Homo sapiens: one gene and its partners. The protein of the gene in region 2 interacts with the protein of the main gene of each other region in a pairwise test. Each region holds a gene or a part of one and is shown on either strand. Other genes may lie near its edges. The genes, in order: ATP5F1C, PNO1, FRZB, SGSM2, PDPK1, SUPT5H and RXRG.

The links.
Region 1: the proteins of PNO1 (region 2) and ATP5F1C interact in a two-hybrid assay, tested with the Homo sapiens proteins (one large-scale study listed by BioGRID and IntAct).
Region 3: the proteins of PNO1 (region 2) and FRZB interact in a two-hybrid assay, tested with the Homo sapiens proteins (one large-scale study listed by BioGRID and IntAct).
Region 4: the proteins of PNO1 (region 2) and SGSM2 interact in a two-hybrid assay, tested with the Homo sapiens proteins (one large-scale study listed by BioGRID and IntAct).
Region 5: the proteins of PNO1 (region 2) and PDPK1 interact in a two-hybrid assay, tested with the Homo sapiens proteins (one large-scale study listed by BioGRID and IntAct).
Region 6: the proteins of PNO1 (region 2) and SUPT5H interact in a two-hybrid assay, tested with the Homo sapiens proteins (one large-scale study listed by IntAct).
Region 7: the proteins of PNO1 (region 2) and RXRG interact in a two-hybrid assay, tested with the Homo sapiens proteins (one large-scale study listed by IntAct).

Annotation. Positions count from the first base shown.
Region 1 is NC_000010.11:7,794,677-7,798,176, forward strand, and holds part of ATP5F1C (ATP synthase F(1) complex subunit gamma, mitochondrial isoform L (liver) precursor), read left to right. Parts: intron 1-1,444; coding exon 1,445-1,479; intron 1,480-2,370; coding exon 2,371-2,502; intron 2,503-3,500.
Region 2 is NC_000002.12:68,160,888-68,164,387, forward strand, and holds part of PNO1 (RNA-binding protein PNO1), read left to right. Parts: intron 1-795; coding exon 796-879; intron 880-1,377; coding exon 1,378-1,438; intron 1,439-1,658; coding exon 1,659-1,776; intron 1,777-3,500. UniProt on the Homo sapiens protein: Part of the small subunit (SSU) processome, first precursor of the small eukaryotic ribosomal subunit.
Region 3 is NC_000002.12:182,835,638-182,839,137, reverse strand, and holds part of FRZB (secreted frizzled-related protein 3 precursor), read left to right. Parts: intron 1-524; coding exon 525-729; intron 730-1,126; coding exon 1,127-1,190; intron 1,191-3,500. UniProt on the Homo sapiens protein: Soluble frizzled-related proteins (sFRPS) function as modulators of Wnt signaling through direct interaction with Wnts. They have a role in regulating cell growth and differentiation in specific cell types.
Region 4 is NC_000017.11:2,365,001-2,368,500, reverse strand, and holds part of SGSM2 (small G protein signaling modulator 2), read right to left. Parts: coding exon 3,444-3,500; intron 3,287-3,443; coding exon 3,160-3,286; intron 2,999-3,159; coding exon of another isoform or gene 2,862-2,998; exon of another isoform or gene 2,835-2,861; intron 2,127-2,834; exon of another isoform or gene 1,688-2,126; intron 1,463-1,687; coding exon of another isoform or gene 1,441-1,462; exon of another isoform or gene 1,345-1,440; intron 1,337-1,344; coding exon of another isoform or gene 1,271-1,336; exon of another isoform or gene 1,237-1,270; intron 1,231-1,236; coding exon 1,096-1,230; intron 1-1,095.
Region 5 is NC_000016.10:2,586,521-2,590,020, forward strand, and holds part of PDPK1 (3-phosphoinositide-dependent protein kinase 1), read left to right. Parts: intron 1-155; coding exon 156-373; intron 374-3,500. UniProt on the Homo sapiens protein: Serine/threonine kinase which acts as a master kinase, phosphorylating and activating a subgroup of the AGC family of protein kinases.
Region 6 is NC_000019.10:39,462,582-39,466,081, forward strand, and holds part of SUPT5H (transcription elongation factor SPT5), read left to right. Parts: intron 1-2,216; coding exon 2,217-2,468; intron 2,469-3,500. UniProt on the Homo sapiens protein: Component of the DRB sensitivity-inducing factor complex (DSIF complex), which regulates mRNA processing and transcription elongation by RNA polymerase II.
Region 7 is NC_000001.11:165,417,627-165,421,126, reverse strand, and holds part of RXRG (retinoic acid receptor RXR-gamma), read left to right. Parts: intron 1-1,112; coding exon 1,113-1,257; intron 1,258-3,500. UniProt on the Homo sapiens protein: Receptor for retinoic acid. Retinoic acid receptors bind as heterodimers to their target response elements in response to their ligands, all-trans or 9-cis retinoic acid, and regulate gene expression in various biological processes.

The DNA of each region.
Region 1 (3,500 bases), on a different chromosome or scaffold from region 2:
AGCTTTGCATACCTGGAGTAAATCCCACGTAGTGATGGTGTATAATTATTTTTAATACATTGTTGGATTTGATTTGCTAATACACTGTTGAGGATTTTTGCCTCTAACCTATGCTCATGAGAGATATTAGTCACTGTCCACCAAGGTCATTCAATTAGAGAAACCTTAGATCATTCTTACTGCTTTCCTTTCTACTACGAATGTACATGTGAAGAAGTTAAATGCTTGCAAATCTAGTCTCCTATTGCTTTGCCAGCATCTTCATCCAGGTTCTTGAGGTCTCTCCTGAGGCTGTGGCAGCCTACATCCCCATGTCTTCTGTGTTCATCAAAACTCCAACCTCATTTTACGCTTGTCACTGCCATGTGAGATACTTTGCTGAAATACTAAACTGATTTGTGGGCTTATAAACATTCATTTCCCTATTAACCTACAAATAAGATTTAAACCAATTTGCTTTTTTTGATATTTAAAAATATTAATTATTTAAAGTAACAAACCCAACTCATGTGTCCAGTTTCCCCTTCTCCATTTCTCACTCTTTCCTGATCATGAATGCTCTTAAAATGACATTCTGTTCCCGAGAATCCCCTCCTCACATCTCTACTTTGTGCACACATTTCATCATGCTCAGTTCTCCTGTGTAGCTTTGCCTGCAAACACAGGCACTTTGTATGGATTTGAAGGCAGAAAGATCATCTAATATTTTTTAGCATGTCTTCCCCCATTAGGCCAGGAATTCTCTCATATTCATCTTTCACCAACATTTCATTTAAGCCTAATCATTTTGACTTCTGCACATTAGCATTTCAATTTTAAAGACTTGAAAAAAAATACTAAATGTTATGTAAATGTAATTTTTTATGAACCTTGTTTACAAGGTAACAATATGTCAGAGACCATGTCGTGTTTACCAGTGCCTGGAATTTAGAGCATCTTGGTAAATGTTTATTGAGCTAAATTGAAAAAGTTAAGAATCAGTTTATATAAACTACTTTTACACGTGTAGTCATGTTCGACTATATCATTGACTCTGTTACTGGAAGAGGTTGCTGTGAACTAAGGAAATTTTTAGAGTGGCTGGCCTTGATTCGAAGTATAGTTGGGCAGCTTAACAAGGGGAGGGGCTTTTCTGTCATGGAAACAAGATAAGCAAAGATATGGAGGTGGGACTAGAGCATGTGTGAGTCAATAGAGCATGTTGACTTCTGGGAAGGTGGTGGTACAGACAGGCCAAATAAAAGGAGGCCTTCAATACAGGGATTTGCGCCACTACTAAGGGATTTAAATATATGTCTATTCATATACATTCTGAGTCCTGTATTTGATAGATTGTTTCTTTATGGGGTATTCTTTAAATAAATATATATTAACTGAAAGTTTTTCTTGTATAATGGAACTATTTTTCAAAAAACTGAAACATTTTTAAAACTTTTATCCTCAGGATTCAAGTTCGAAATATGGCAACTTTGAAAGATAGTAAGTATGTTGTTTGTCTCAATATGTGAATTGAGAAAAACTAAATTTTGACAAATACAAATACTTTCAAAAATATACTGCTTTAGCCCATTGTGTATTTGATCAAAACTGACCAAATGGATTTCCATTGTATGTTTGGGACATTGGACTTGTTCTGAAAAGACCAGTAAGAAAGGACACCTGAGACAGCTATGTTCTGTTGTTTGTAGAATGATCATGATATAACTAGAAAAAATTATACCAGTGTTGGTGTAGGTGGGTGTATGTGTGGGAAGGGGTAAATCATGTTATATATAAATAATGTTATGGAATATGTGGTTAAGGCAACTTTCAATACCATTTAATGTTTTAAATGTATATTATTGTCTTATGTTGCCATTTGCTTGTCCTAAGTAGTAGCTAGTTTTGCCTTCCTTTTATTAGTACTATTTCTATTTTTTTTTTTTGGAGATGGAGCCTCATTCTATCACCCAGGCTGGAGTGCAGTGGCGCCATCTCGGCTCACTGCAAGCTCCGCCTCCCGGGTTCACGCCGTTCTCCTGCCTCAGCCTCCCGAGTAGCTGGGACTACAGGCGCCCGCCACCACGCTCGGCTAATTTTTTGTATTTTTAGTGGAGACGGGGTTTCACCGTGTTAGCCAAGATGGTCTTGATCTCCTGACCTCGTGATCCGCCCACCTCAGCCTCCCAAAGTGCTGGGATTACAGGCGTGAGCCACCGTGCCCGGCTATTAGTACTAGTTCTAATATTAAGACTGGTTTAGCATCGTGCTGTTTATTGTTTATCTAAGCGCTCATTATTCTGCCTTGCACTTCAGAAAAATATGTCAATAAATTCACAAGGAAGTTATACTGTAATTCCTTTGTCTTAACACAGTACTTCTATTTTTCAGTCACCAGGAGACTAAAGTCCATCAAAAACATCCAGAAAATTACCAAGTCTATGAAAATGGTAGCGGCAGCAAAATATGCCCGAGCTGAGAGAGAGCTGAAACCAGCTCGAATATATGGATTGGGATCTTTAGGTAAGGGAAGAGTGTAATTCACAAATTAGGAAGAACTGTTTCACACAAGGAAGACTACTGATGACTTACATTTAGAGCTTACAGTGATGTCAAGCCTATCTGAGCACTTGCCATGTACTTATTTTTCATCTACATCCACTTGACACGTAATGATAACAACCCGTGTAGGTAGTACAGGTAGGGACTGTTAGAATCCCTGCTTTCCAGTGAGAAAAACTGAAGCACACAGAAGTTAAGTAACTTGCCTAAGATCACATATAAAAGGATGAAGAGCCTCTGTTTGGACCTATGTGGTTTGGTGTCGAGTCTGTGTATTTGTTAGCCATTATACGTGACCATGTTAACTTTTAAAATATTCTGAAATGTTCCCAGTTGTTAAGTATACCATCAGAAGAACTTGGAAACCGTGCGTTAGATGTAAGGGCTTAATTTCATCCTATGACCTTGTAGTGTGGCATTTTAGGACTGCAGCGGGGGCGGGTGAGGGGCAGTGCAGTGGAGAGCTGGCCTTGTGGTCATGGATATGACTCATGATGGTGTTTTGAGAATCCGAACGATGTTGAAGCAGGAAAAGCAGCTGAGAACCTCCATTTTCAAGATACTTAATCACCATTCTTATCTTTTCAAAAGCATGAAGACATTTTTCCTTCAGAAATTTATGTAATCCATCCTTAATTAGTCTTCTTAATGGAAAAGAGATGAGATATGACAGTTTAAAAAGAATTTATATTGTGTTTTTAGATGCTTTTATACTTGTTTGATTATGAATTCATCTTGGAAATAAAGTTGTAAAGAGCTGGAAATGGGAAAGAAGTTTCTATTTTAACTTGTAATTACATTCTTTCTCTTAACTTTTTTATGATCATGCTGTCTTATCCTGAGTTGAGGCTATCTAAAAGAATTTTTAACTTAAGGAAGATTTATGCATATTTGATAGTAAAGAAGATCATGCAGTGAACCCCCTATTTATCTACCAAATCCTCAGTATCTCAACTGAC
Region 2 (3,500 bases):
TTTACATTTGTTGAATACGTGGTCTCTTCAACTAGACTGTGAATGTGCATGGGACAGTGGAAATAACAGTTTTGAAATCAGACCTGTGTTTAAATCTTACCTTTTTTGCTTTTTAGTACTTTAGTTTCCTCACATACGAAGGTAGTCATATCACTTAACATTCAAAGTTGTTGTGAAGGTTAGAGTTATGGTGTGTAAAGCATGTTATTTATAGTACGTGTTATTTACAGTGGTAGGCTTTTTATGAATAACAGTTATTTCTGCATTTCTCAAATAAACTTTGAGGACAGGTTCAGTGCTTCATTCATTCTTTATTTCCCCAATCAGTGCATGCAGGTAGTTAGGCCTGGAGCTGTTGGTTTAAGAAACATCAGCATATAAATGATAACTAAGAAGATTAAGTCAGGAATCCCAGGGAAGACTGCCTTGAGAGAGAAGAGAAGAGGACATTGGGCATTGAAGGGATGGACAGAAGGTAGAGGTTCTTCAGAATGGGAGAGATTGGGTTGTGCCAGAGGAGTCTTGCTGTTAACCCCAAAATCTGATCATATAGTGCGGTTAGTTATTTGACACTCTTTGGGTGGAACAGCCAAGCTTTGGAGCTGGGAACGTTTTGTTTTGCAAATAAAGTACAGCACTTATCTGACCAGAACCTGTGTCATACAGAATATATTAGGGAAAGGTGGTGGTGAAGGAAATTCTCCAATAATGGGAAAGGACATTTCCAGTATTTTGTTAGGACATTTTCTGTTTGATTCTCAACGGTATTTTGTACCCTTTTTTGTTTTTTAACAGACTTGTAAAGAAACCAAGGATGTTAGTGCTCTGACAAAAGCAGCTGATTTTGTGAAAGCTTTTATTCTCGGCTTTCAGGTGGAGGTGAGTAATTCCATGATATCTAAAATGGGGACTTTAAAAATATTCAATGTGAACATTTCAATGGATTAGGCATTAAAAAAAAAAAAGGCCAGGCACAGTGGCTCACACCTGTAATCTCAGCACTCTGGGAGGCTGAGGCAGGTGGATCACTTGAGGCCAGGAGTTCAAAATAATCCTGGCCAACATGGCGATACTCTCCATCTCTACTAAAAATACAAAAAAATTAGCTGGGTGTGGTAGTGCATGCCTGCAGTCCCAGCTACTTGGGAGGCTGAGGTGGGAGAATCACTTGAACCAGGGAAGCAGAGATTGCAGTGAGCCAAGATCACGCCACTGCACTCCAGCCTGGGCGACAGCGTAAGACTCTGTCTCCAAGGGAAAAAAAAAAGCTTTCTAGCTCTAGAGTTTGTGGATTTTAGTTCCATAGTGCTTTGCACTTTACTCTTTTTCAGGTGTGCAAATGGAAGGGGCTTCACGGTGTTTGTTTTTATATTATAGGATGCACTTGCCCTCATCAGGTTGGATGACCTCTTCCTAGAGTCTTTTGAAATTACAGATGGTGAGTGTGTGTTGGTCTGCGCTCTTGTGTCGCTGACTTTGTATTGTGATGTGACTCTCAGTTTTCTAATAGCATCAATTGAGCTGTATTTTTAGCAACTTATATATATATATATACACTTTGTGTCCTTTAGAGAAATTTAGTTTATGATTAAACTTTATGTGGAATGGGTGGTACACTAGAATGGCTTGCCTCCTGAGATCTTGCTTTTCTTGTTTAGTTAAACCCCTAAAGGGAGACCATCTATCCAGGGCAATAGGAAGAATCGCTGGCAAAGGAGGAAAAACCAAATTCACCATAGAGAATGTGACACGGACAAGGATAGTTTTGGCTGATGTGTAAGTATCTGATCTTGAGAAAATTATTGTCATAATTTATATTTGATCTTTTGTTTTAAGAAAGTCATAACAGTTGTATTTTATGCATAATGTTGCTGCTAAATCTTTGTCAGTGCAGATGCTCCTCATAAATCCATCATAAATTGAAAATATCATAAGTCTAAAATGCATTTAATATGCCTGACTTATGGAACATTATAGCTTAGCATAGCCTATCATAAACATGGTCAGAACACACATTAGCCTGCAGTTGGGCAAAGTCATCCGACACAAATTCTACTTTATGACAGAGTGTTGAATATTGAATACTGTACTAAAAATGAAAAACAGAATGGTTGTATGTGTATTTGAAGTAGAGCATTCTGAATGTGTATCACCTTTGCACCCTTGTAAAGTTGAAAAATCCCAGTTCGAACCGTGTTAAGTTGGGAATCATCTGTATACTTTTGGGTGAATAGATGGTCACCAACTTTGAAAGAGGCTTAAGTTGAGAAAATTTAAGAAATTATATATTCTTTTCTCATTTAACAATGAGGAAATGCTATTAAAAGAAATTATTACAGGTGAAGATTTAAATAATATCTCGGGTTGGGCACAGTGGCTCACGCCTGCAATCCCAGCACTTTGGGAGGCTGAGGCGGGCGGATCACCTAAGGTCAGGAGTTCGAGACCAGTCTGGCCAACATGGTGAAACCCTCTCTCTACTAAAAATACAAAAATTAGCCGGGCATGTGGCATACGCCTTTAGTCCCACCTACTCGGGAGGCTGAGGCAGGAGAATCACTTGAACCTAGGAGGAGGAGGTTGCAGTGAGCCGAGATCATGCCACTGCACTCCAGCCTGGGCGACAGAGTGAGACTCTGTCTCAAATAAATAAATACATACATACATACATACATACATACATACATACATACATACTTACTCAAGGGAATCTATTAAATCACTAGGGGAGAACAAGCAATCACTATTTCAGATGCCCTTGTGAGTCTTTAGAAGTATATATCTACTTTATGTATATACATATATATGTTAAGGCCTTTTATAAAAGGAGGGGAATATCGTACATTAGGCAAAACTAGAGAGCAGTTATATGTGAACATAAACAAGATGAGAGGGGCTTAAAATAAAGGTGCCAGAAGTGAAGCTGGGATTACCCCTGTCTGAGGTTGAAGCTGCCCAGGCTGGGGATCTTACTGGCAGATGGCTCAGAGATTATATAATGCCATGAAGTTGGGAAACTGAACAGTTGACTGAGAGGAGGAGGGTTCTGCCTATGACTAAATTCTGAAATAATTTCATTTAATATCTCAATTTTGCTCCATACTGAAGGACTCTTCATTATATAGAACCTAAATTTTGTACATTCTTTACACTTTAAGGATAACTATACTACTGTGTTGGTGGCCCTCTTTACCTGAAGCCAGGCATATAATTATATTGTTTGATCTTTTATGGATTGAGCCTAGAGTCAGAAATATGGAGCCTTGGGAGAAGCTATTTTGAACTGGAAATGTGCAAATGCACACCACATTTAAAAATATGGCCAAGCATGGTGGCTCACATCTGTAATCCCAGCACTTTGGAAGGCTGAGGCAGGTGGATGGCGTGATCTCAGGAGTCTGAGACTAGCCTGGGCAACATAGTGAAACCCCTTCTCTACAAAAAAATACAAAAATTAGCCGGGTGTGGCGGCCCACACCTGTAGTCCCAGCTACTTGGGA
Region 3 (3,500 bases), about 110 Mb from region 2:
GCAGGACAATTTTATAACATTACAGAGGCCCACTACTTGAGAAAACCTGTTAATGGACCTGATAAAACAGTGTCGACAAGGAATAAAGCATATTTAAGTATTAGGTCTTTTCATATAGTAAAATTAACATAGTTTAAATTCCTCTTGGCAGCAATTGGAACTGCACATGCATATATACACATCCAAAATGGAATTTTAGAGAAAAATTGTATCAGATTGTTGACTCAATCTTTGATTCTCTAAATGGATTTCTCAAAAGCACATGCACACACATGCATAAATACATGCAAATATATACACAGCCACAAATTGGAAAGAGAGCAGGGCTGAGCATTAGGTCAGGTGTGTTGTTTTATGTCACACACTACAGTCTAAGGCAAAAATATCTGGCTGACTTTTCTGTTCCATTCGTTGAATATCAAGTGGATAAGAATTAACTAAAGAGAAGCCTACTTTGGCTTTTTTTGAATGGGGTAGCTATTATGTGTCATATTATTATCAGCTTTTCTTGTCTTTTATCCCAGTCATTCGGGCTAAAGTTAAAGAGATAAAGACTAAGTGCCATGATGTGACTGCAGTAGTGGAGGTGAAGGAGATTCTAAAGTCCTCTCTGGTAAACATTCCACGGGACACTGTCAACCTCTATACCAGCTCTGGCTGCCTCTGCCCTCCACTTAATGTTAATGAGGAATATATCATCATGGGCTATGAAGATGAGGAACGTTCCAGGTAATTCACTCTTTAAGGATACAGAATAACTACTTTGCTTATCCTACTCTCATTAAATTTGTCTCTAGAGATGCTACCCTCGCATTTTTACATTGGGATCTGTCTACCTTCTTGGGGATTACAGATAAGTTTTAGTTGGGTTTCTTGATTTCATATATGGAATGGGTGTATGCGTGTAGTTTATAGGTTTACATTTTTCTTGGGAGAGGGGCCATAACTTCATTTGTTTCTTAAAGGGGTCTGTGACTTACAAATGGTTAATAATTACTGTTCTAAATCTTAGCTGTCCTATTCAAGAATAAACATATAAGTCTTTCTTGTTCAAGTACTGTTTCCTTGTACTTTTCAGTAACAGGTTTTAATTTTTCAAAAATGTTTGCTTCTTTCAAAAATACAGATTACTCTTGGTGGAAGGCTCTATAGCTGAGAAGTGGAAGGATCGACTCGGTAAAAAAGTTAAGGTAAGCCTGTATTTTATGTTTGAAGTAATACACAGAAAACAAAACAAAAGTAGAAAACCAGCCATCTGTCATTGAAATGAAATAGCTGCCTTCAACCATATGAGAAATATTAAAATTTAGTATGCATATATTTATATACTCCAAGAGCTGAATTTGTCTTTAATGTCTATTTTATTTAAGGAATGAGTTCCCTGTATGTGTATCAAAGATCTAACTACAGTTGCCCTAATGTCTCTTCACAAGGAGTCTAGCTGTAGTCCAGTCCTGGTAGGGTGGTTTCATGTTGTCAGGCTCCTTCTAGCTTATCACTCTACCATTTTTAAAGGCATCGCTTTCATACTCATGTTCACCTGGAGGTCACAAGATGGCTGCTCTGCCTCTAGTATCACATGTACATTTCAGGCAGGAAAAAGAGGAGGTAAAAGGGATTTCCAAGAGCCTCATCAAGCAGTTTTTACTTAGCTGCAAAACAGGCTAGAAAATGTAGTCTTTTTAAACCTGGGGATATTGCTTCTTTGAACAAACTGCAGTTTGTGAGAAGGGGAGAATAAATGATGGGAAGGAAAATAAACAATGATGTCCGATGAATAAACAGCAATTCCTATGTACAAAGTGTAGCTACATTCATCTGTATAGAAGAGATCTGAATAAATTAGGTCCTTAGAGCAGTAATGTAGCCTTATTTTTAAGCCAAATAACTCTTAGATTGTGGAATTGATACATTTTTTAAAATCACATAGTACAGTACTGTATTATAGAAGGTTTTGTTTCTTCTTACTGCACTAAGCAAATCTGTTTTAAAGAAAAGAATGGGGTGGGGGAATGCATGGGGGGACAAAAAAATCTCAAAGGATGTGTGGGTGGGTGGGGGGAGTGGGAACTGTACCAAACATAATACATCCTCTTCCTTCTGCAAGTTTGAAGGCTTGGGAAACATTTACATGGTAAGTTAAACACCCCTGGGCGGTTTATCTTATACATCTGGCACTTGACACGGCAGACACGTTTGGGTTTAAGTGACCTACAAAAATGTAGAGGGCATTATTTTGTAAGGAGAAACTACCCTCCAGTAAGTTCTTCTCCCCTTTAGTAGATTTGTCAAAAGGGAGATGCATTTCAAGTTCAGACTTGCGGGCATTCTCTCTGCATCTCTCTTCAATTAGTTTGGTGTTTATTAAAGAAAAAAGTGGCTCTTGTTCAGTATGTTGGAATCTCTTACTGTCTTTAATTTGGTTTTCTGCTTGCTAATGCAGAACTGGAATTTGTCCTAAATTCCTGTACCAGTTGGAAAAGCTTTCAATATCCCTGCTGCGAAGCATGTAACAAGGCTTACTGCTCCTCTTTTGGTACCAAAACAATATCATTGTGTTGTTGACAGGACACATGGCTTGTTTGTCCTGTTTCCCATTGCTTTCTGCAATATTTCCCATTGTTTTCCGCAGGGGACTTGCAGAGTTATTATTGTAAAGTCATTTATATTCTCAGTCTGGATTTAAATATTCTAAAGGAAAGAAACCAATAATTTGAACAATTTTAAATTCATATGCAGATATTGAGGGCTAAAGAGTTTGGGTAGAAAATCTCCTTTGGCCAGAATTATTGAGATTCCTATTTTAGTTTTCCAGTCAATTTGAAGATGTGTAAAAAGAGTTTTATGGAGGATGTTATTTTTTCAATCAGATTTGCTCTTAGCTGAGTTTTGCTCTCAGTGGATGAATCAATAATTTTATAAGAAACATTATTATGTTTTTTTCATGCAAATGGTTGTTTACCTAAGTCTCTTATAGCAGACGATTCAAGATGTTTGGACTTCCTTGGGAAGTTGAGAATCAGACTGTTTTTAAAATATGAAGACAAGATTGTGGAGTAAAGAATACTGAAATGAAGAATTACCTTCAGTAACAGAAAAACAATAACACATTTACTATGTGCTAAGCACTTTATATTTTTATTAATCTTCAGATGTATCTACTTATAAGTAGATTCTATTATCAGTTCCAACATATACATGATGAAAATGAGGTCTAGTAAGTTCAAGAAACTTCACACAGTAAGTGGTGGAGTTAGAATTTGAACTTGGGCCATCTGACCCAAGGATCTGATGGTGCTTGCTCTTTAAAGTGTGGTCCCTGGATCAGCAACATAGGTATCACCTGGGAGCTTGTTAGTAATGAAAATCTTCGGCCCTGTCTCAGACCTGCTAAATGAGAATTTGCAATTTTAACAAATTCCCCATATGATATCCGTGTTTGAAGTTTGGGAAGTACAGCTGTAGTTCGTATTCCCTACCTATCCTCATGTAATATAACT
Region 4 (3,500 bases), on a different chromosome or scaffold from region 2:
GAAGCCTAAGGGGAGTGTGACATATTCTGAGGACATCCTCTGCAGGGGCGGGGAAAGGGAGAAGCAATTGATTTTGTAGCATGGGAATGGGTGGGAATGGGGAAGCTCCCCTCGTCTCTGGGAGAACTGGCCTCAGCCTCTTCCTACCCACCCCTTTCTGGAGCACCCATCCCAGCCCTCACAGGTCGCCTGGCTGATTGCTTGCTGAAAAGAGGGGGGCTCCCTCTCTACCAAGCCAGCTCTGTGCTAGGAAAGATGGGTGGTAGGCAGAGGAACCCTGAGAGGCTGAGGGCACTACGCTATCACCTCCAACAAAGGTGACCTCTCCATTCGTGGACCCTGAGACTCATGAGGGCAGGAACACATCTGTCTTATATCCCTGGCGCAGGTGAAGAGACGGAGCTCCGGGATAGTGAGAAACTTGCTCAAAACCACACAGTGAACCAGGGGCATATCTGGGGCGGGAGTTCATGTTGCCAGGCCCTGAGCCTGGCCCCTTCCTGGACACCATGCTGCAGCTATTTCTAGATTTCATGCCAAAGTACCAGGCCCTGCCGGCTGGGGCCCTCAGGCCTCCTGGGAAGACTGAGCCCTGGGGCCCTTCGCATGGCAGCCCTCAACCCCTCGCCTGACCCACAGCTGCTGCCCCTGCCCCAGGAAGGACCCGGTACCTCCATCCTGTTTCTGTTAAGTCAGGAGTCAGAAGCACCAGGCCCAGAGGCTGGTCTTCCCAATCAGCAGAGAGAAAGGAAGAGACCTCTGTCTGGCATTTGCCAGCCTGACCCCCGGAGTAGGAATGGGCTCAGAGATCCATTCAGGGTGCCCAGGAGGCAATCAGATAATCAGACCTTCCTATTAGCAAATCCTCTTCCTCCTCACAGCCTGGAGCCACCTGCCCTGGGCCAGCCCCTTTTCTTGCCAGCACCTGTCTGGCCTCCTTCTGCCCTCCCTGATCTGCCCCCGATGGAAGGGAACTGCCCTGGGTGCAAGTCCCCTAATGCCAACACTGCCGTTCGAACCCCTGTGGTGGGTGGCAGGCGGGCCCGGGAGGGAGGGTGGGGATGAGGTGGGTCAGGGAGAGGGAGGGATAAGAACCTTTCATCGGATTGGGAGCTGTGAGGTTCCGCGAGCAGATCATTGAGAGCATCGCGTGCAGTTTATCCTCCTCTTCCTCATCATCGTCCACCGAGGCCGCGCGGCTGGCCGCTAGGTGGTGGTAGTTAATAGTGACTGCTCAAAGAGAACAGCGAGAGGCAGAGGCATGAGGCCCTCATCCCTGGGCAGGACGGACTCCCTCCTTAAGGGGAGTGGAATGGAGGCCGGGGTCATCGTGAATCTGCAGGGCACAGAAGAGGGGAAGGGAGGGGACCAGAAAGCTCTTTGGATGATTTTCCTGGGAGAGTGTGGAAGGAGGCGAGGGGCTGGGGCAGCTGCAGAACCTCACTCTTCGGAGGCAGCCTCTCTAGGAAGAACAGAAGAGAGAGAACAGAGGTGGGAGGATGTGAAAGACCGGGACTGTCTGGGATGGGCTGGCAGCCCAGGAGGTCATCGGCCCTCACAGAGGCTGCGCATGACAGCTGGCAGATGGGTCCTGATCGTTCTCTAGCTCCTCTCAGGCTGGACCAAATCTGAAGATTACTCCAAATCCCCTTTTTCAGACTATAAATTCCACCTTCTTCCCTCCCAGGAAAAGGAAAGGGTTTTCCCAGAGCTGTCCTCAAGGAGCTGGAGTCGCTTGGTGGAGTTTCAGCCTCTGGGTGCCCTGGCTTGCCCTTGGCGAGGTGGTCCTGGAAGTGAAGTGACCAGGACTGGGAAATGGCAAAGATCGAAGAGGGGAGGCAGAGACTGGAGAAGCTAAACCAAGCAACAGCCTGAGACTAAGTGCCAAGTGTGTAAATACATTCTGGCCAAAGATGCGTCTCTTTGTCAGGTACATCTGGGAAGGGGGGACATCCCTGTGCCGTGTGCCCTCTGAGCCTGGTGGAGCTATCTGTGCTGTGGCTGAGTGTGCCGTCTGGGCAGTCCGGTCCCTAATACAGAGACAACTTGTTGACAACTTTTTGGCACAAGTTGGAAATTTAGGGAGCGGGTGGTCTTGTTAGCAATAAACGCTCTGGGCTGGCAAATTCCCCGACCTTATCTGTAAGAAAAGCAAGTCTGCCCAGAGAAGCCTATGGGCAGCAGCAGCACTCTGACCAGAAAGGGAACTTTGGTGTTGGTAGATGCACATAGACAGAGAGACCCCCTTGGGCCCAGGGGTGTGTGTCCAGGGTGGGGCAGGACCCACAAGGGCCAAGCCGCCTTTCTACCCGCCAGTGCCCAAAGCCCCCAGGCAGCCCCGAGTCTGCCTCTGATGCAACCTGCTACTTCAGCTAACGCTCATCAGTAGTTGGTTTGAGGAGGGCTCTGGCTCTAGGGGAGTCAGCAGACAATATTCACCATCCAAAAAGAAGCGCTGGGCCGGGCGCAGTGGTCACGCCTGTAACCCTAGCACTTTGGGAGGCTGAGGCAGGCAGATCACAAGGTCAGGAGTTTGAGACCAGCCTGGCCAATATGGTGAAACCCCATCTCTACTAAAAATACAAAAATTAGCCGGGCATGGAGGTGTGCGCCTGTAATCCCAGCTACTCAGGAGGCTGAGGTAGGAGGATCGCTTGAACCCAGGGGCAGAGGTTGCAGTGAGCTGAGATCACGCCATTAAACTCCAGCCTGGGTAAAAGAGCGAGACGTCGTCTCAAAAAAAAAAAAAAAAAAAAAGTAGCGCTGGTCCCATACCCAGGCTGTCTTGTAGGGGTTGGGGAGCAGGAGGTGAAGAGCAATGGAGGGTTCCCCACCTTCTACTTCTCGTTTCTCCACGTGTTTTACCCCTGGACAGGGTCTGAAAGGATAACTAAGAGTCTTGTGTAGTGACGCCTAGGTCTGCTGAGCCAAGAGTCCTGGCGTGGAGAAGTGGGGAAGGGAGCTGGGTAGAAGAGACGCACCTTTTCAAAGGCAATATCTGTGGGTAAAAGGTCCAGCTGAGAGGCTAGGCGATGAGCCTCTGGTGTTAACCTGGCCTGGTCAGTGGGCCCTGCCTGCTGCCCTCCTGGGTGACGCTGCGCTCCCCGCCTCCCAGAGCGTCTTCCTCTCCTCCCCCGGGATGAAGCTCGGGACACTCACTGTGCTCGTGCCTGTGGCCGGGGTAGATGATCCGGAACACATAGTCGGTGGCCCGCCCCGTGCCCATCTCCTCCATATCCACGGAGCGAATGCTGCTTCGTTTCCGTAGCTTGGGGAACACTTTCCCCTGTGGAAGGAGGGGTAGGTGGTCGGGCTGTATAGGGCAGAGTCTCATCCAGGGTTCCACACAAGGCCGCTCCTAAGAACTCCACGTGGGGAAGGAAGGGAGGCGGGCAGAGAACCCCACACACAGCCCTTCCCCTAAAGCCTCCCACCCGAGTTACCTTCCCTTGCTGGGTCCACAGCGGGGGCTCTAGCTGTCCCCGAGGCAGCAGCCCATT
Region 5 (3,500 bases), on a different chromosome or scaffold from region 2:
CCATGGAGGAGAATCAGGGCTGCCCACCCTGTCGCCTTGCGCCTTGCTGTGTGCGAGCTCCCAAGGCCTGACAGCGGCAGTGCGGGAGGGGCTGGGGTTTTAGGACCTTAGAGGCAAGTGAAGGTGCGGTTCTCACTTTCCCTTCTTCTCTGCAGTATGACAATCTCCTGAGCCAGTTTGGCTGCATGCAGGTGTCTTCGTCCTCCTCCTCACACTCCCTGTCAGCCTCCGACACGGGCCTGCCCCAGAGGTCAGGCAGCAACATAGAGCAGTACATTCACGATCTGGACTCGAACTCCTTTGAACTGGACTTACAGTTTTCCGAAGATGAGAAGAGGTTGTTGTTGGAGAAGCAGGCTGGCGGAAACCCTTGGTAAGAACTTATGGACATAAGCAATGCTTTTTGCAGAATTGCAGCGTGAACACGTGGGGGCTTATGGTGGGTGCCTTTGCCTTGTCACTGCCTCCCTCAGCAGCCTTGGACGCTTGGCCAAGGAGCACATCGTAAGTGCACAGTTGGAAACAGGTGCTTAGGAGGCAGCCGGCCCAGGGGCTGAGTGGGTTGTGACCGCCGGGCGCTCCCCTCCTCTGCCGGGCATTTGGACCTGCTGGTTGTGGCCATGGAGTCACTGTGGTATGGACAGACGCGGCCTGGACCTGGCCACTTGGGAGTTTATGAGGTTTGCTGTTGTAGCCCCTCTTTTCCACATAGCTTTCCCCACTTGTCCATTTATGTCTTCTAAGGTGAGTGCCAGGGGCAGTGTGTGATGGAGGGCGTGCGTGTTTTCAGGGCTGGGGATCTGTCGCGGGGGCGCCAGGAATCTGCCTTTCCCAATGCTCTTGCCTGCCTGAGAGTGTTTTGATGCTCCAAAAACAAACTTGTGAATTTCTGTTTTATTCCTATTGAGGCAGATGTCTCCTGTGTTCATGACCATTTGTGTTTCTTTTTTGAGGTACTTTGTGTCCTTTGACTATTCTTTCTTGTATATTTTGCATCTTTTTTTTTGAGACAGAGTGTTGCTCTGTCACCCAGGCTGGAATGCAGTGGCGCGATCTCAGCTCACTGCAACCTCTGCCTCCTGGGTTCAAGCAATTCTCCTGCCTCAACCTCTCAAGTAGCCGGAATTACAGGCACCTGCCACCACACCTGGTTAATTTTTGTATTTTTTGATAGAGACAGGCTTTCCCTGTGTTGGCCAGGCTGGTGCCTCTTTTTAACATGGATTTTTAAAAGCCACGTGTATGGAGACTATTCCTTGTTGTATGTTTTGCAAACATTCTTCAGTTTCTCTCCAGTCTCGATACTGTGTTTTTGTATGGAAGCTGCAAATTCTTACCAAGTCCATCCTGTCCCTATTTATATTTTATGTTTTCCATTTTAATCTGGTAAGACGGGCTTCCCCCCTAATATTTTTACCTGCTTTTCCCTTTTGTGTGGGCAGAGAGGAGCCCAAGGGGGTGGGGAGAGGGCCTTGCAGGAAGGCATGCTGGAGTGGAAGCACAAGACGAGGGGGAGTTGAGGGCCTGGCTAGGCAGGGACAGGACACATGTGACTTGAGAGACTTGTGGGGAGGAATGAGAGGAAGGAGCTGAGCTCTGGGCCGCCCCGGCAGGTGGGGAAGACCACGGCTCTATGCGGTTCGCCACACCTGTCTCTAGAAAACCTGTGCAGAGATGCTGGCAGGCAGCAACAGTCTACAGCTAGGGGCTCTGAATCACACCTAGTGTGATTGCTAGAGATGTTAATGTGTACTGAGCAGGAGAGGAGGGCTCTTGATGGGAGCAATCTGAGCCGTGCTGTGCTGCGCAGCTCCAAGCAGCAAGGAGGCGTGTGCCTGGCTATGCAAGGAGCTTCCCGGGCTCGTGTGTGCTGGGGTCCCCACGAAGGGCTGCTGTGGCCACTCCAAGTACTTGGCCAGGAGCGCTCTCTCTGCAGATCCCAGCTGAGAGGTGCTGTCTGCAGGTGTGTGTGTGTTTCAGCTCCTTTGGTGACTCCCAGAAGAGGCCCCTCTGCCTGGGGCTGTTCTTAGAGGGCCTTGGGGTCCGTCTGGGTACCTTAGCCTGGTGATGGCGGCAAGTCAGGATACACATTCTCCTGCCTGCTTCCTTTGTCTTCAGGTTTCTCTTTCCCCTTCCCACTTCCTTCAGATTTTAGGTCCTTTTGGGAAGCTGATGACTCCTGAGATCTTGCAGGATCTGTCTGGCTGCTGGGAGGTCTGTCCAGCACCTGCTCTTTACAGTAGTGGTTTGCATTCTCAGTGTGTGGCCACCAAATCCCCGAGGTCAGGGCAGTTTTTTTTGTAATACTAAGATGTTATTTGCCTTTTTGCTGTCATTCTCTGTGCGTGTATGGTGAGTTTTTCAGTGGTCACATGCTGTAGAATGGAATCTGCGTGCTTTTGGTCTTTTCTAAGGTCATAGGTTTTTGGTATCAATATGTTTTGTTTTTTAAATGAGAGAGAGTCTTGCTCTGTCGCCCAGGCTGGAGTGCAGTGGCGTGATCTCTGCTCACACAACCTCCGCCTCCTGGGTTAAAGTGATTCTCCTGTCTCAGCCTCCTGAGTAGCTGGGATTACAGGCACATGCCACCACGTCCAGCTAATTTTTGTATTTTTAGTAGAGAAGGGGTTTCACCATGTTGGCCAGTCTGGTTTCGAACTCCTGACCTCGAGTGATCTGCCCACCTCGGCTTCTCAAAGTGCTGGGATTTCAGGTGTGAGCCACCGCGCCAGCCAATGTATGCATTTTTTGAGATTAATATTCAATATTTCTACTGAGCTCTTACTATCTCTTCATTTATACCTGCTATAGCCTCTGTAATTTTATCATCCACTGAATCATTATTTTGAAATCCTGAAGTTTTCCTTGTGCCTACATGAGAATACGGTAAGTTAAGTTCAGGATCACACCTGTAATCCCAGCACTTTGGAGGCCAAGGTGGGTGGATCACTTGAGCCAGGAATTCGAGAGCAGCCTGGGCAAGAAACTGAAACCCTGTCTCTACAAAAAATACAAAAATCAACCAGGCATGGTGCTGCACACCTGTAGTCCTAGCTGCTTGGGGAGGTTGAGGTAGGAGGATTACCTGAGCCTTGGAAGTTGAAGCTGCAGTGAGCAGAGAGCTTGCCACTGCCCCCCAGCCTGGGTGACAGAGTGAGACCCTGTCTCAAAATTGGAAAAAAAAAAAAAAAAAAGGTAAAAGGAATTTTTAAATTTACATGGAATAGTTTACACTTAAAAGGAACATTTCAAAAATATGTGTGATGAGCTCTTTAAAATCCAATGTTGTTTGTAACAGCTTTTCAGACAATAAATTAAAGAGTCACTGAAGCTCTTAGAAGCTGCATTGTAGAGGCTGGAGAGGCCACACGGTAGCTGAGAGACAAAGCCTCCGGCTGCAGCACAGCCTCAGGCTTGGTCATCCTGTGCTGCCACAGTCCACAATGCAGTCGAAACTTGCTGGATTCAAGATACGACTGCAGGCACGAAGAGGGAGTTGA
Region 6 (3,500 bases), on a different chromosome or scaffold from region 2:
ATGTAATGGTGCAGTCTTGGCCCACTGCAACCACTGCCTCCCAGGCTCAACTGATTCTCCTGTCTCAATCTCCCAAGTAGCTGGGATTACAGGCACCCGACACCACGCCTGGCTAATTTTTGTGTTTTTAGTAGAGATAGGGTTTCAGCATGTTGGCCAGGCTGGTCTCGAACTCCTGACCTCAGGTGATCGGCCCACCTCGGCCTCCCAAAGTGTTGGGATTACAGGCGTGAGCCACTGTGCCCAGCCTTAATTTTCTTTTTTTTTTTTTTTTTTGAGACAGAGTCTCGCACCGTTGCCCAGGCTGGAGTGCAATGATGCGATCTCGGCTCACCGCAACCTGCACCTCCCGGGTTCAAGCGATTCTCCTGCCTCAGCCTCCCAAGTAGCTGGGATTACAGGCACCCACCACCATGCCCAGCTAATTTTTTTTTTTTTTTTTTTTTTGGTATTTTTAGTAGAGATGGGGTTTCACCATGTTGGCCAGGCTGACCTTGAACTCCTGACCTCAGATGATCCACCCCTCAGCCTCCCAAAGTGCTGGGATTACAGGCATGAACCCACTGCGCCTGGCCAACCGGCCTTAATTTTTGTATTTTTAGTAGAGGCAAGGTTTCACCATGTTGGCCAGGCTGGTATTGAACTCCCGACCTCAAGTGATCCTCCTGCCTCGGCCTCCCAAAGTGCTGGGATTACAGGCATGAGCCACCGCTCCTGGCCTTTTTTTTCTTTTAGTTGGTATTTACAGCTATACATTTACTTCTAAGCATGGCTTTTTTCAAATCTCATAAGTTTTGGTATCTAGGAGTGTGTTGCCATGTATTTGTGAATTTCCTAAGTATCTTTCTGTTGGTTTTTAACTTCATTACATATGGATGGAGAATATACTTTATATGATTTTAGTTCTTTTATGTTTACTGAGACGTGTTTTATGGCCTAACCTGTGGTTTATTCTGGAAAGTTTAATATGCCCTTGAGAAGAAAGTGCATTCTGCTGTTGTTAGATGGAGTGTTCTTTTTTCCCATTTCCGCTTAATAAGTGGAAAGTGAAGACGAAATGTTCTGTCTATAGCTGGCTATTAGGTTTAGGTGGCTTACAGTGTTGCTCAAGTGTTCTCTTTCCTTGTTGATCTTGGGTCTAGCTCTATCCATGATTGAAAGCAGGGTATTGCAGTCAGTGATTGTTACTGTTGAGTTGTCAGTTTCTTCCTTCATTTTCATTAGTTTCTGCTTCATGTATTTTGAGGCTCTGTTAGTTTCATATACATTTGTAATTCTATCTTCCTGATGGATTGACCTTTTTATTGTTACAAAATGTTTTTTGTTGTCTCTGGTAGCAATTTTTGTCTTAAAGTATATTTTGTCTGATGTAAGCACTCCTTTCTTGGTTCTTCTTCTAGTTGCTTTTTTTTTTTTTTTGAGACGGAGTTTTGCTCTTATTGCCCAGACTGGAGTGCAATGGTGCGATCTCAGCTTACCGCAACCTCCACCTCCCGGGTTCAAGCGACTCTTCTGCCTCAGCCTCCCGTGTAGCTGGGATGACAGGCATGTGCCACCACACCCGGCTAATCTTGGATATTTTTAGTAGAGACAGGGTTTCTCCGTGTTGGTCAGGCTGGTCTTGAACTCTTGACCCCAAGTGATCCACCCGCCTCGGCCTCCCAAAGTGCTGGGATTACAAGCATGAGCCACCGTGCCCGGCTCTAGTTGCTTTTTTACACAGAACATATGTTGGATAGCTTTCTATATTAGTACATACAGGTTAATCTAATTTTTATTTTATTTTTTATTTTTAAGAGACAGGGTTTCACTCTGTTGCCCAGGCTGGAGTGCAGTGGTGCGATCTCAGCTCACTGCAGCCTCAACCTCCCGGGCTCAAGCAGTCCTCCCTGCTCAGCCTCCTGAGTAGCTGGGACTACAGGCATGTGCCATCACACCCAGCTAGTTTTTGTATTCTTTAACTGCAACATTGTATTTCATGGTACATTAAGCCATAAGTTAACTAGTTACTGTTTCTGGATATTTTTAAAATTTTTAGTCTGGTTTGTTTGCTGTGATAAATAATTCTGCAGGGAACACCTTTGTGTCCATGTCATTGTGCCAGTGTGTTTCTGTGGAATAAATTCCTAGAAGAGGGACTGCTGATGAGTGGCAGTCATTTCTGTTATTAGCCGTTGTGTCTCACTGTTTCCTCCTTCCACCGGCTCACCCTGCAGCCCCTGCAGATCAAGTCAGTAGTGGCACCAGAGCATGTGAAGGGCTACATCTACGTGGAGGCCTACAAGCAGACCCACGTGAAGCAGGCCATTGAGGGGGTGGGCAACCTGCGGCTTGGCTACTGGAACCAGCAGATGGTGCCCATCAAGGAGATGACAGACGTGCTCAAAGTGGTGAAGGAGGTGGCCAACCTGAAACCAAAGTCCTGGGTCCGCCTCAAGCGGGGCATCTACAAGGATGACATTGCTCAGGTGCCCGGGGCGGGGTGGCATGGGGGTCAGGGTCCCTCCATTCTGTTCTCCCTTCCTTTCCTTTTGTCCTTCCCACCCTCTTTGTGCTGCAGAGAATAGAATCCCACTCAGATGAGTTGAAGCAGAGCCTGGGTTTTGTGAGCACACAGGAAACGGTTGGCTGTCTTCTGTGCACATTCCCAGGCGTGTTGAGTAAAGGTCTGAAGGATCGGAGGGCGTGAGGCATGTGGAGCTCTTGGGGAGGAGTGTTGTAGGCAGCAGGAGTGGCCTGTGAGATAGGATGGCACAGTCACTGGCTACAGCAGGGATGGCGTGAGATGAGTTAGGGAGCTCACGAGGGCCTGCGGCCCATTGGAGAGCTTTGGTGTTTACTGGCGTAGGATGGGAGGGCTGTAAGGGACACAGGCAGACTTCAATGTTAATAAGATTTCTCTGGTGACTGTGTTGAGACTAGACCACTGGTTCTCAAGCCAGGGTGATGTTTCCCCAGGGGACATTTGGTAACGTCTGGAGACATTTTTGGTTATGTCAGCTGGGGAGGGGGTTGACGATTATGGCATCTAGCAGGTTAAAGCCAGAAATGCTAGACACACACATCCTCCAATGCACAGGATGGCTGCCCACAACAAAAAATTACCTGGCCCAAAAAGTCAATAGTGCCAAGGCTGAGAAACCCGGGAATAGCCTGGAGGGGGCCATGGGCAAGAGCGTGGAGACCAGGGAGGAGGCTGCTGCTGTAGCACATCCCACCCAGATGGCAGTGCTGGTGGGATAGGACCAAGACCCTAATACACGTTGAGTGTCTCTAACCTGAATTCTTGAGACCACAGGTGTTTTTCAGATTTCAGATTTTTTCAGCTTTTGGAATATTTGCATTATACTTACCGGTTGAGCATCCCAAATCTGAAAATCCAAGAGTGAGCATTTCCTTCGAGCATCATGTTGGTGCTCACAGGGTTTCCTATTTTTGAGCATTTTGGGTTTTTGGATTTGGAATGCTGAGACTGCAGTGGAGGAGGGGAAGAGGTCAGG
Region 7 (3,500 bases), on a different chromosome or scaffold from region 2:
ACCTAGCTTAGGCTCTATTGTAGTTTCTGTTTTATTGAACCTTTCTTCTGTCCCAAAGGCCTTGAATAGAGAGGAAAATCATACCTTTGATTCAGTTTGAGTATTATTGTCCCTTTGGTTAGGCAATATGATTCAAAATTCAGACAAACCATGGGAAGTCAGTAGTTCCTAACCACTAAACCTTTACTTCTATTGGACAATTACGAACATGCATATCCTGCACCACCTTCGTTTGAACTTGCTTGTAAGTGTTCTTATTTTTTTGTGCATGTTCTGACTCCTTGATGACATTGTACATTTTTGAGGAATGAGAGATATACCTTCTGGGTTTCTATTGCTGATTGGATGAGTGGCTCAAATGTATTCAATTTGCTTTCTTTGGTGAACACAAGATACTTAGCCTCAGTTTCTGAGGAATCTTACCAAGAGCACTGGGAGATACAGGGATGGTGATGGGGAGCTGATATTAACTTACAATAAGGGATGTATTCGAGTTAGCATCTTCAGTGTGCTTGCAGAGATGACCATTACACATGTCCTTTCTCATTTTACCGTGAACTCCTTCTGGGTGTGTATTTTTCTTTGCCTTTGTACCCCAGAGCCTGGCACAGTGTCTGGCATTCTGAGTGCCCAGGGAATATCTGTTGATTGACTAATGAATGAATTTGCATTTTTTTGCTTGGCTCTCTTAGAGTGTAAGTCTTTAGCCTGAGGGTCGTAGTTCCTCTTGCAGCACGGCTGAATAGGCAGTCAATAGTTGATAAAAATTTTAAAATACACAGTTGACATTGTCCTGGGTGTGTAATTTGGCATGGATTTCTAGCTTAAATAAAACATATGAGTAAAATGAATAAAAGCAGATAGACTCTAATGGAGATGTGTTGTGATTTTTGGTTTAAGTTTTGGCTTCTAGAAATAATTTTGTTCCTCCTATGGCACTTTTATCCCTCCCTTAAGTTCATCTCACAGATAGGCAGTTTCAAATACTCTGTACTTGGAAACTGTTTCTTGAAATAGAACTTGTTTTTTCTTGAGTAAGCCCTCATTGCCTTAGGCCTTGGGGATTGAATTTACTCTGGCTCTGTGCTTTACAGTATTTTTTTCTCTTGCAGCTAAATGTGGTCAACAGTGTCAGCAGTTCAGAGGACATCAAGCCCTTACCAGGGCTTCCCGGGATTGGAAACATGAACTACCCATCCACCAGCCCCGGATCTCTGGTTAAACACATCTGTGCCATCTGTGGAGACAGATCCTCAGGTACATGCAGAAGCAGACACTCCCTGAAAAGTGCCACAGAGAAGGGGCTGCTCACTGTCTGCCTGGATACTTTGTACTCAATGAAAGGAAAATGGCCCTTTAGGATGGGCTAACTGGGGACCCACCTATACGTTTATGTCACTGGGTTCACAGGCTGCCGTTTTGATGAATTTAAAGGATGGCTTTATTTTTTGAGGATGAGATTTACAGGAAACATTTCAGAAACCCTTCTCTGGAGTCACACTATTACACATGTATCTGAGAGACAGAAGCTGTTGTGATTATCAAGTATTTCTGCTGGGTGTGGTGGCTCACACCTATAATCCCAGTGCTTTGGTGTAGTCCCAGCTACTTGGGAGGCTGAGGTGGGAGGATAGCTTGAGCCTGGGAAGTCAAGCCTGCAGTGAGCCATGATCACGCTACTGTACTCCAGCCTAGGCCACAGAATGAGACTCCATCTCAAAAAAAAAAAAGTATTAAGAATAACCCCTCCCAGATAAGCAATTGTAAAAATAATGTCCTAATGTAGAGGATTTGAACGAACTAGAAAACTGCAAAGAAAAGTAAAAAAATTACCCATAATGTCCCCAAGAAAAATAAACCCTTTAATATTTTAGCGTATTTCTTGCTATAACATTCTAGATTTTCAATATGCTTTTATAGGCAGAAATAAATGTGTTTTCACCAACTTATCTTTGATTCTCTTCTCCTTTTCTCAGTTATTTCTTTCCTTGCTTCTTTCCTCTCCATTCTTCCTGCCCCATATTTCCCTCCCCATCAATTTTGAACACATCCGAATCTCCGATTTGATTATTTGAAGAACAATAATAAGAGGAGGTTATTCTCTTTTCTATAGCTGTCCATGATGGCTAACTGAATATTTCCTTATACTCTTAATGCCACCAAAGCCACTAAAGAATGTCACTCCATTGAAAGTTCCAGGCACCTAGAACTTACCTAGCTGAATGGCTGATGTTTTCTTGCTCTCAAAAAATATTTCCCAAATCATGCAGACTTGGCCATTGCCATAATAGCACACCAGCCACAGCCCGACAGTGTTTTCTCTGCTATGCTTATTCTAGTTGAAAGTCTATGAGGTTCATTTAAATATTGAAAAGCCATGGGAATGACTATGTCACACAGTTGAAAAATTGGTCCCATATTTCTCTAAGACAAATATTTCAGAACTGAGAGCACTAGGTTTTCTGGGCCCAAGATAAAATCCTGTATTTATCATTGCTGTGAGTTCAGCAATGTGAAAAGCCGGCCTGTAGTATGGTCAACCAATGAGGCAAAGGCTGGCTTTTCTTCAGGCAGGCTATCTGTACCCATCATTTCATCTTACAGTGGCTTCCTCTGAACTGTAAACTCCTGAGATGCTGGAAACCTAAGTAAAACAGAATTAGAAAGTCATGTCATTTCTGTAACTCAATGACATCACATATTACATTCAAAGAATCAGACACAAATATGTTTTGAATGATTTGTTTCCTTATATTTTTGAAGTTCTGCAATTTCAATCAATCAAGCATAGTGCCTGGTATTAAGAAGACTTCTACCTAGAAAAAGGATTGTGATTGATTCATGATGCCTGTCTGAGGATGGGCTTGGTGGCTCTCCTGACCTAAATTAGCCACCCCTGCCTGGGGTAATTGAAAACTGCATGTGTGGACAGGTAATAAGGGCAATGAAATATGCAACAAATTAGTCTGGATTAAGCAAAATCACCTTCTTTTTTTTTTTTTTTTTTTTTTTTTTTGAGACGGGATCTCGCTCTGTCACTCAGGCTAGAGTGCAGGGGCATGATCTTGGCTCACTGCAACCTCCGCCTCCAGGGTTCAAGTGATTCCCATACCTCAGCCTCTGGAGTAGCTGAGACCACAGGCATGTGCCACCATGCGCGGCTAATTTTTGTATATATATATTTTAACAGAGACGAGGTTTTACCATGTTGGCCAGGCTGGTCTAAAAGCTCCTGACCTCAAGTGATCTTCCCACCTCAGCCTCCCAAAGTGCTGGGATTACAGGCGTGAGCCACCATGCCCGGCTGCAAAATCAGCTTCTATCAGATCTTTATGTCATAGCTTGATTGTCATATGATGATATAAAGATCAAACAGCAATTAATTTCCTCAACAGTCAATAGCACTTAACAATTCATAACTCAGAATTCTGTTCATAGTTTATGGTAAAGGATAATAAATTTAAATAGGTTTCCTAAGAACTTGGGTCTCAATTATAATT